Regions from separate parts of the Homo sapiens genome. Here region 2 is linked to region 1. Evidence: fine-mapped expression QTL. A gene starts in region 1. The other region holds a variant in brackets. All regions are shown on one strand. Distances are between the middles of the regions.

Region 1 (4,388 bases):
TTTCCCCATAACATATGTCCCCAGAGCTACTCCCCTGTAGACCGGAGATGGCCTTTTCTTCAAGAACTCAACTTTCACTTAGCAAATAAAACCAATCCCTAGCAAGCCTCCCTCACACAGAACCATCTTAGGCTGTTCCTGTGGAAAATCCAATTGGGAAAAAAAGACCTCCAAACCATCACCTCCTCCAAGTGCAGACCTCCTCCAGGCTGGCCATCACCATCCAAGGGTGATCCCTGGGAGCTGAGAAAAGGTACATGCTTTAGTCGAATCCAGCTTGCCAGTCTCCGCAGCCACCAGCAACCAGTCCCACGCTGGCCTCTCCCCTCCCAGAGACCACAGCACCTGTTAGGTGCTTTTTCTTTCCCACCTCCAAAGCAACGCTTGCCCTTTCCTTTTGAATAATGTCCAACTGCAGAATCCTACAGGGGTGGCTTGTTTTGACTGCTGCGGCGGCCCTTATTTTTGTTAATGTTGATTACAATTTCTGCTGTGCTCAAACCTGTAGCACTCATAAAACATGCTTACACACGCGGGGGACAATTGGCGATGCTCCCTGCTGGCTGGAGCCAGGCCTGGGAGGCTCTTTGGGGGATCGATTTTCCGGGCAGGCCGGTCTGGCTGTCCCCTAACACGTATCTGTTTCTATAAATACCCACTACCCACGGGGAGGTGGGGGAAGGACAGAGATGTTTACCGGGTCAGGGAAGGGAACTCTGGGATGCAAGGACGAAAAATGAGGAAAGAAGGAAAGCAGCAAGGAGGAAGTTCCTAGGAAGAGGAGGTCATGGGTGGGCGAGCTCTGGAGGGGAAGTAAGGGGCCCACGCCACGAATCTTCCTTTGTGGCTGCAGCTTTGGGCTCGCCCAACTTAACCAGGGCGGCGTCGACGAGAGACCATCGGCCCGAGGCGTGGGGCTGCTTGTATCTCGACCCCTCTTCTCCCGGCGTCAGACCCCTCCAAGTCCGGGTGCTTCGGCCTGGGGCCCCTCCCGCCCCCACCGCCCGGGCCGCCCGCGGGCTGGGTCTCACCGTGTGGGCTGCGGCGGCAGCGTTGCTGGCCCGGAGAGGCGGCAGGGCGATGGGGGAGGGCGGGCCAGTCCCCACTCCGCTCCGGGTGGCCCCTGCACCGAGCCCCGGGGAAGCCTGAAGCTGACGAACGGCGCTGTCCCCACCTCGGCCTGGAAGCCACGTGCGGGAGGAGACAAAAGAGGGTCAGGGGGGAGAAAGTCACCCAGACCCCCCCTCCAACCCCGCTGGGCAGCGACAACCCTCTTCCAAAGAAAGACGGAGGAAGAGACCGGGGCAGTAAAAACGGGCGTTCGGGTCACGGCTCCCCAGCGCACACCCACGGGCGGGGCGCGGGCAGCTGCAAAGTTAAGTGGGGCCCTGGCGCGCGAGTTCGCGACCCGGCGGGGGAGCCGGGCCGCGCCGGGGCTAGGCGGCCCACGTTGCAGACGGCCAGCAGCCGGGAGGTGGGTTTGGACAGCTGAGCAGGGAGCCACGGCCACGCCAAGCCCCGGGCAGCGCAGGGCGGGGCGGCAGGCCTGGACGGTCCCCGCCCGGGCCCCCGGCAGGCAGAAGCCTCTTCGGGCCGAGGGCTCCCCGCGGAGGGGCCTTCGGGGCCGCGCACAACCCTGCATGGAGCCCGGGGCGCGTCGTCCGCCCGGGGGCTCCCCCGCGCCGCGCCGCCGACTTTGTTCGAGGTCCCGCAGGCAGCGGCCGCCCGCGCCACAGGGGCTGCCCAGGGCCGGCGGGGGTCCGGGGATGCGGCGCGGCGGCACGGCCTCCTTACCGGTCGGGTAGGCGGCGGGAGCGGCGGCCGAAGGTTTCCTGGTTAACATGGCCGCTGGAGAGGAAAATGCATTTCAGGGCTGCCGTCGCCGCCGCCGGTCCTGCTGCTACTTCTGGCGGCCGCCGCCGCCGCCTCCCGGCCGCCCCTCGCGCGGGTCCCCGGCGCCTCGTCGCCGCCTCGCGTCTGCTACAGCCAGACACACACAGTCCACTGCATCCCCTCGGCCGGGGCCCGCCGCCGCGAGCCCCCCGCTCTCCTCCTCGCCGCCGTCCTCCTCTTCCTCGGGCGGCTGCAGCACCCTCCGGCCCGTGCACATGCCTCGCCCTCCCCTGCGCGCCGCGGGCCTCCCCGTCTCCCTCACATAGGGGCGCGGGGAGCTGGAAGCGCTGCGAGGACCGAAGACCGCCTGGCTCGGGAGCCTCTCCCGGGCCCGCGCGCGCGCGCCCCCGCGCACTCACACACAGGCGCCGGCGCGCGGCCCCGCCCCCGCCGCCCTCCGCCGCCCTCCTCCGCCGCCGCAGGCCCCGCCCCCGGCTCCCCCGGCCGCGGCCACGCACACCCCACCCCCACCCAACCTCCCGCCCGGCTCCTCTCAGTCCCCCGGTTTGCGCGCAGCCGCCCCTCCGCTCCCCGGAAAACTCGGCGGCCTCCGCTCGCCCTCCTCCGCCCCCTCCGGCCATCTGCACTGCTTCCCTCGGCTCCACTCCGGCGACCTTTTCCCCTCCCCGGCCCCGCGGCGCCCCTTCTCTGCCCTACAGCTCAACCTACCGCTGCTGCCCTCCGGCCGAAAGCGCCGCAGAGACCCCTCCCCTGCCATGCGCACCCCTAAACATAAATGCATTTTCAGCTCTTCGAACTGAATGGCTGCTCACAGACAGTACTGCTTCCCCGTCCCCCCATTCTTGGTCCCAGCGACTTAGCCACTCCCCTCTCCCCAATTCATCATGTAGATAACTTAGTTGTGCGAGGGTCACCTCGGAGAGGCAAGTCCCGGGAGGGGCGGCCGCTGAGCTCGTTGACCCTGAGCAGGGGCGAAAGAGGGGGCTGCCCTCCCACCTCCACCACACACCCTCCCCGGTTTACTGACACCAAGTGACCGCTCGCCAGTCGCTAGGACAAGGGGAGGCAGAGAGGCGCGTGTGGACGGCAGCTGGGGAAGCAGTTGGCTGTGGGTTGCTAGGCAAAAATAAACATCAGAGACATCTCCTATTTCCTTACAACTCCGAGCCTTTCCCCTGCGCGGCCACTGGGAGAGACACACCTTCCTTTCAGCTCTGCGGTGAGGGAGCGACACCTCGAATTCCTCTCACCCCACCCGACACATCTCTTTCCCCCTTCCCTTCCAAGACACGTGGAGAATTTCCCTGCCTTTTTTATTCGCCATATACAACCTCTCTTTTCCTTGAAGACCAAAAAAAAATTGCTTTCCCGTCTCACATCCGCGCCTCGTCGTGCGTGGCACACAGTGCGCCTCTGTTCAAAGGTCACAGGTTTTGCCACTTCAACTGTGAGAGGAGGTGGGGTGGGAAAGCCCGACAAATCCCGGATGACGGGGCAGAGTTATGCCATGCACTTCCTTCTCGAGAGGTGCCTAGTTTCTGAAGTTCTCTTGGGGCCAGGGGTCCATTATGCTCTGCCCCGCCCGAGTATCTCTGGCTCCTGGCTGGACCTACTGTGCAGGCCCGAACTAGTGCAGACTCCAGTCGGAAGGGAGCCACCTCCTGCGGAGTTTCATCCACTCTACTGTTTGCAAATTGTCATAGCAACCTCCTACAGAGCGCATCCGCAGCTTTATACAAACGCCAAAAACTGTTTCAAGGTACAGTGTGACCCTCTCAGAGTCTCTGGGACTCCTAAAGAGGCCTCCAAGTTAGGGTCACTGGGAGAGGGAACCTGTGACAAAAAGAATTTTCCCTAGTATTACGTCCCTCCAAACAAAACAAAACAAAACAAAACAAAACAAAACACCCTTTCGGGGCCTTCTCCTAATAAAGTAGACCCACAGTAAAATAATCCAATAATATGCCTTTAGAGGAATCATGACCTGAACTGACCCTAGCAAGAAATATCCCCCTATGCTTGTCACTGGCGACCATCACATTTAAATCCACATGCGGAAGCATATTTAGTGTTTAGAATCGACTAAAAGAAAAGGGCTACTAAGTAGCAGAGATGACACTAGAACCGGTTTTCTGACTCCCAGTCTGATTTCACTATGACTTCCATCACACTACTTTCCTTACACTTTCAAGAAAGCTCACACCTCTTTTTTCTCCTTTCAAAACAATTATTTTCATACCATTTTCCTTTTTAAAATGAGTACTCCATACAACTGATGTTCAAATAAAAAAATGAAACAAAAAAATCAATTTTAATATAATATGACACCCCTTTTTGCTTAAGTTATTCGTACAATACTTCAGTAGAAGCTAAATATGCCACTGTTTTCTCATGAATAAAATAAATGCTAGTTACTGGAAGCCATAGTTTACGATTTCCAAATTAGTAATATTAATTTACTCATTTAACATGAGGAAAAGGAGCACTGATTCTTTTTTTTTTTTTTTTTTGACAAAGGATCACAATCATTAACT
Region 2 (4,388 bases), 54 kb before region 1:
CCCGCTTCTACCCCTTCCCCAGCCCCTACGCACCACTTTAAATGAGTGAAGGGAACCTCTGTGGTACCTCTTTTTAAATGGGCCAAGTTAGTCAAAGGTTGCCTTTTGTTCCAAGGGTTTAAAGCACGTAAGACAAATCTTGCCACTAAGATGAAGAATAAATGCCAGAACCAGAGAAACTGGTGCCTAGAGAGGTTAAATTACTCATTACAAATGAAGGGCTGATGGGGGAAGTGGAATTAGGCATTTAGCTGCTGGCTTCTTTCACTAATTCTGTGTCTATGTGCTGAAGGCTCAGGTATGATATTGATAAACTACAGTGTTTCTACAGAACACAGTGAACTTGAGCCACAGACTCCTAATATTCCCTCTTATAACAGCACTATGGGTTTTTTTCCTTTATTACTTTACATAATTGCAATTTAAAATGTTTCCATTGTTCCAGGTGATATGGAGTCACTGTGCACTGTTACTCCACATCACCTGGAACTACAGCAAAACAAGAAAGCCCAAATTAAATGCAGAAATCACCTGTTTGAAGGCAGTGGTGGGCTGTCAAGGCTAAGAGAATCGGAGGGGCTAAGACTTGAGAGAGCAGAGAGGTGAGCTGATGGCAGAGCCGAGAATCTGAGGACAGAGAAGCCAGAGAACTTCTAAAAGAGACCTGAAGGGTTTCAAACACACAGTTGGCTTTCCCTTCAAAGCATGTGCTGAATTGGGGGTATATAAGGAGTGGAGGTTGAAAAACAGAAGTAGAAAGCCTCTGAAAATCATCAGAGTTTCTGGCAGTCTCAGGAGATGAAAATAGGAACTCAGGACCTGCCAAGGAAGGGATCCCAGTGAAGACACCAGGTTCTCCGTTGGGCCAAGGATAGACAGTAACCTGGCCTCACTGCCACACCAAAAACTAAATCAAGATGGATCATGACCTAAATGCAAAAGATAAAACAATAAAACTCCTAAAGAAAACAGGAAAAGATCTTCATAATCTTGGAGTGAAATTTCTTTTTTTTCCTCCCAGTTTTAAAAACAGCATACTCTACTTTGCTTCAAAAGCATTTCAACATTCTGAGAGAACTCAAATCTATGTATTAAGAGTAGGATGTAGGTTGCCTCTGGGGAGAAGGGGCAGCTGGAGCTTCAAGGAGCGTGCATGGGGGCTTGTCATCACGGGTGGTTGTCACCCAGGTGTGTTCATTTTGTGGAACTTCACAGTGCTCTATGCCTCCTCTATGCGTTCTTCTGTGCTATGCTGTGCCTCAATAAAAACATTAATAGGAAAGGGAGTCTTAGCGTTCTAATGATACCAAAAAAATAACAGAATGTTGCAAAGTGTGTGCTTGAGGTCAGAAGGCTTATGCACCTTCCTTGAAGCAGTACCTATGCAGTTTTCTGACAACGAAGACCTCTACAGTTTGTTTTCAAACTACTAGATTTAATTAAAAATAATCAGAACACTTCCCATGCCAGCCAGTGCCCCTTTTCCACAGCTAAGAATGTCAGCAGAATGTTATGTCACTGTATAGAAAAACAAGACAGCCGGAAGCAGTGTAAAGAGGTTTAGCCTCATCCTTGAGCTACAGCCCCCTCCAAAAAGTGCCACCTTCTACAGCATTACACCACCAAGCACAGACCATAAAAAGTCATCTAGTTTGTTTTGTTCTTTTTACAAATTACAGCTGATGTACAGTTGATAACTCAAGACTTCTAATCAATAACACTACCTTACACATAAGTTTTTTTTTTTTTAATTTCAGGAACATTTTTAATTGCCTTCTCTCACAGATCTCTAAATTCATGGAGTGAGGATAACAAAAGAGTTTCTTTTCATTTTAAAAATGTTTAGAAATATGGACAACTTTGATTGAATTTCTGGGTGCTTGTGACACCCATGAACACAACATAGAAACCACTTGCATTTCCTGGAGCGCTTCAAAAACTACAGTGTAATTATATTTCAATTGCGGAATGAAACCCAGTGAGAACAACAGACTCTCAAATAGGAGGTGGTCAGTTACTGCAGTTGTCCTGTATACATACACATGGAGACAGACATGCAGTTTTCCTCATTATTCTCTTTTGCATCCTCTTTTTCCCTTTCTCATACTCCTCACCTTACTCTTCCATCTTTTTTTCTGGTGTGTGCTAGATGATCTCTTTATTCCATCTGTATCAGGCAGTTCTTGCACTGCTATAAGGAAATACCTGAGACTGAGTAATTTATGAGAAAAGAGGTTTAATTGGCTCACAGTTCAGCAGGCTATACAGGAAGCATAGTGGCATCTGCTTCTGGGGGGGTCCTCAGGAAGCTTCCAGTCATGGCGGAAGGCAAAAGAGAAGCAGACGCTTCACATGGCAAGAATGGGAGCAAGAGAGAGA[G/A]CATGGGTTACAGGGGAGCTGCCGCAAACTTTTGAGCAAGCAGATCTTGTGTGAACTCAGAGTGAGAGCTCACTTATCACCAAGGGGATGGCCCAAGCTATTCATGAGGCATCCGCCCCCATGATCCAAACACCTCCCACCAGGCCTCTCCTCCAGCATTGGGGATTACAATTCCACATGAGATTTGGGTGAGGACAAATAGCCAAACTCTATCACCATCCCTTTGCTTTAGATTATAGTTGGCCACCTACTTCCCATACATCTCCTTCAACTTTGTTATAAGGTAGCTTTTCACCATCACTAAAATTATCCTGCATGTTTTATTTTTCTGTCACTGTATAACAAATTACCACACACTTAACAGCTTTTAACAAAGTCCAGCACGATGTCACCTGGTTCTCCTCTCAGGGAATCACAAGGCGGGAACCAAGCCATCAGCCAAGCTGGGTCCTCACCTGGAGGCTCTAAGTAGACATCACCTCCAGGCCCACACAGGTTGCTGGAAGAATTCAGTCCCTTGTGGTTGTAGGACTGAGGATCCTCTTTCCTTGATGCCTGTTGGCCAGGGCCTCTCTCAGGTCTTTTAAGGTTTCCTGAATTCCTTCTCAGGTGGGCCTGCTGCAACTTCAAGCCATAACCCCTTTACTCTTCAAATCTCTCTGACTTCTTCTGCCACCAGCTGGAGAAAGCTCTCTGCTTAAAAGGTCTCATGTGATTAAATTAGATCCTCCAAGATAATCTCCTATCTTAAGGAGATTACCTAACCCTGCCATGAAATATGATAACCACACTAGTGAGTGATGTCTCATCATATTCCCAGGTTCCTGGGATTAGGGGGAAATATCTTTATGGGGGCATTTTAGGAATTCTACATACATAACAGTCATCCAGGTTTTTGGCGACATCTCCGGTAGAAATGCCTAAATTTGTGGATTTACTATTGGGCAGAGATCTAAGTAGAAGAGGAAGGTGGGGCATGAGGGGAGGGTGTTATCATCTTTCTTCTTGCCTCCCTTAGTTGGTCTATAATCCTTTATTTCCTGCTCATAGTATACCACACCATTTCATCAAATTTGTATTTCTCTTTCACCACACATTGTATTCCACCTCTCAGTGTATTTCCACTTCTTGGAAACTGCAGTTTACAGAGGCCTCTGGATTATTATTTGTATTTTCCTCCCAGCATTGTCTTCATAAACAAGGCATGAGCAGACATCTTGCCTTTTGGTTTCTTGGGGTCACCTTTAGCTATCCTGACTGTGCTGTTTGTACTCTAGGCAACATAATGTACAACAGTTTCTCAGTGTTGCACTAGCTGTTTCCACAAGAACTGTCTCAGGCAAAGATTTCTTAAAACACAAAAAGCAATAACTGTGAAGGGGAAAAATATTGATCAATTGGACTGCATTAAAATTAAGAGCTTCAGTTCTCCAAAACCATTAAGAGAGTAAAAAGTCATACACTGAGAGAGAGATTTTCAAACATATATCTAACAAAGGACTATTATCTGGAATATTTAAAGCACTCCTTCAAATCAATGAGATACAGGAAAATAACTCGATAGAAAAATGGGCAAATGTCAGAATAGATACTGTATGAGAGAAGATGTTCAAACAGAAAATAAACATATGAAAAGGCACTCCATTAGTCATTAGGAAAGCACAGATGAAAATTAAGATGGAAAAATCCCAGTGACTCAGGAGAGGTTGAGCTGGGAGGACTGCAGTCCCAGTAACTCAGGAGGCTGAGGTGGCCTGAACCAAGGAGCTCGAGGCTGCTGTGAGCTATGATCACACCACTGCACTCCAGCCTGAGAAACAGAACAAGTCCCTGTCTCTGAAAAAAAAAATGTTTTTAATCATAATGCAAAAACTACAACATACCCTCCAAAATGACTAAAATGAAAAAGACAGACAATATAAAGCAACCAGAACTCTCTTATTCTGCTGACCAGAGTGTAAATTGTTACAACTACTTTGGAAAGCTGTTTGACAGTATCTACTAAAACT

Which allele goes with the higher level. Positions count from the first base shown, and alleles are read on the strand shown. Sizes are in standard deviations (SD) of each study's normalised expression.
In carriers of allele G in region 2, the expression in monocytes after LPS of the gene that starts at base 2,232 in region 1 tends to be lower than with A alone (large effect, 1.0 SD a copy in Quach 2016).

The links. PIP is the estimated chance that this variant, and not a neighbour inherited with it, causes the effect. A credible set is the group of variants that fine-mapping cannot tell apart.
Region 2: its variant is the best candidate, but not a certain one, in a credible set for the expression of DYRK2 in monocytes after LPS (Quach 2016, PIP 0.73).

What each region holds. Positions count from the first base shown.
Region 1 is chr12:67,646,589-67,650,976 of GRCh38, reverse strand. It overlaps DYRK2 (dual specificity tyrosine phosphorylation regulated kinase 2), which reads right to left and starts at 2,232. Exons shown (of 3, transcript NM_006482.3): 1 at 1,795-2,232; 2 at 1,032-1,180. The coding sequence starts at 1,843. RefSeq lists silencers at 840-1,229, 1,390-2,049, 2,060-2,359, 2,460-2,569.
Region 2 is chr12:67,701,030-67,705,417 of GRCh38, reverse strand. No RefSeq gene overlaps it. Among named protein-coding and RNA genes, the nearest start is that of LINC02421, 26 kb to the left of the region's middle. The variant G/A (reference allele first, on the strand shown) is at 2,380.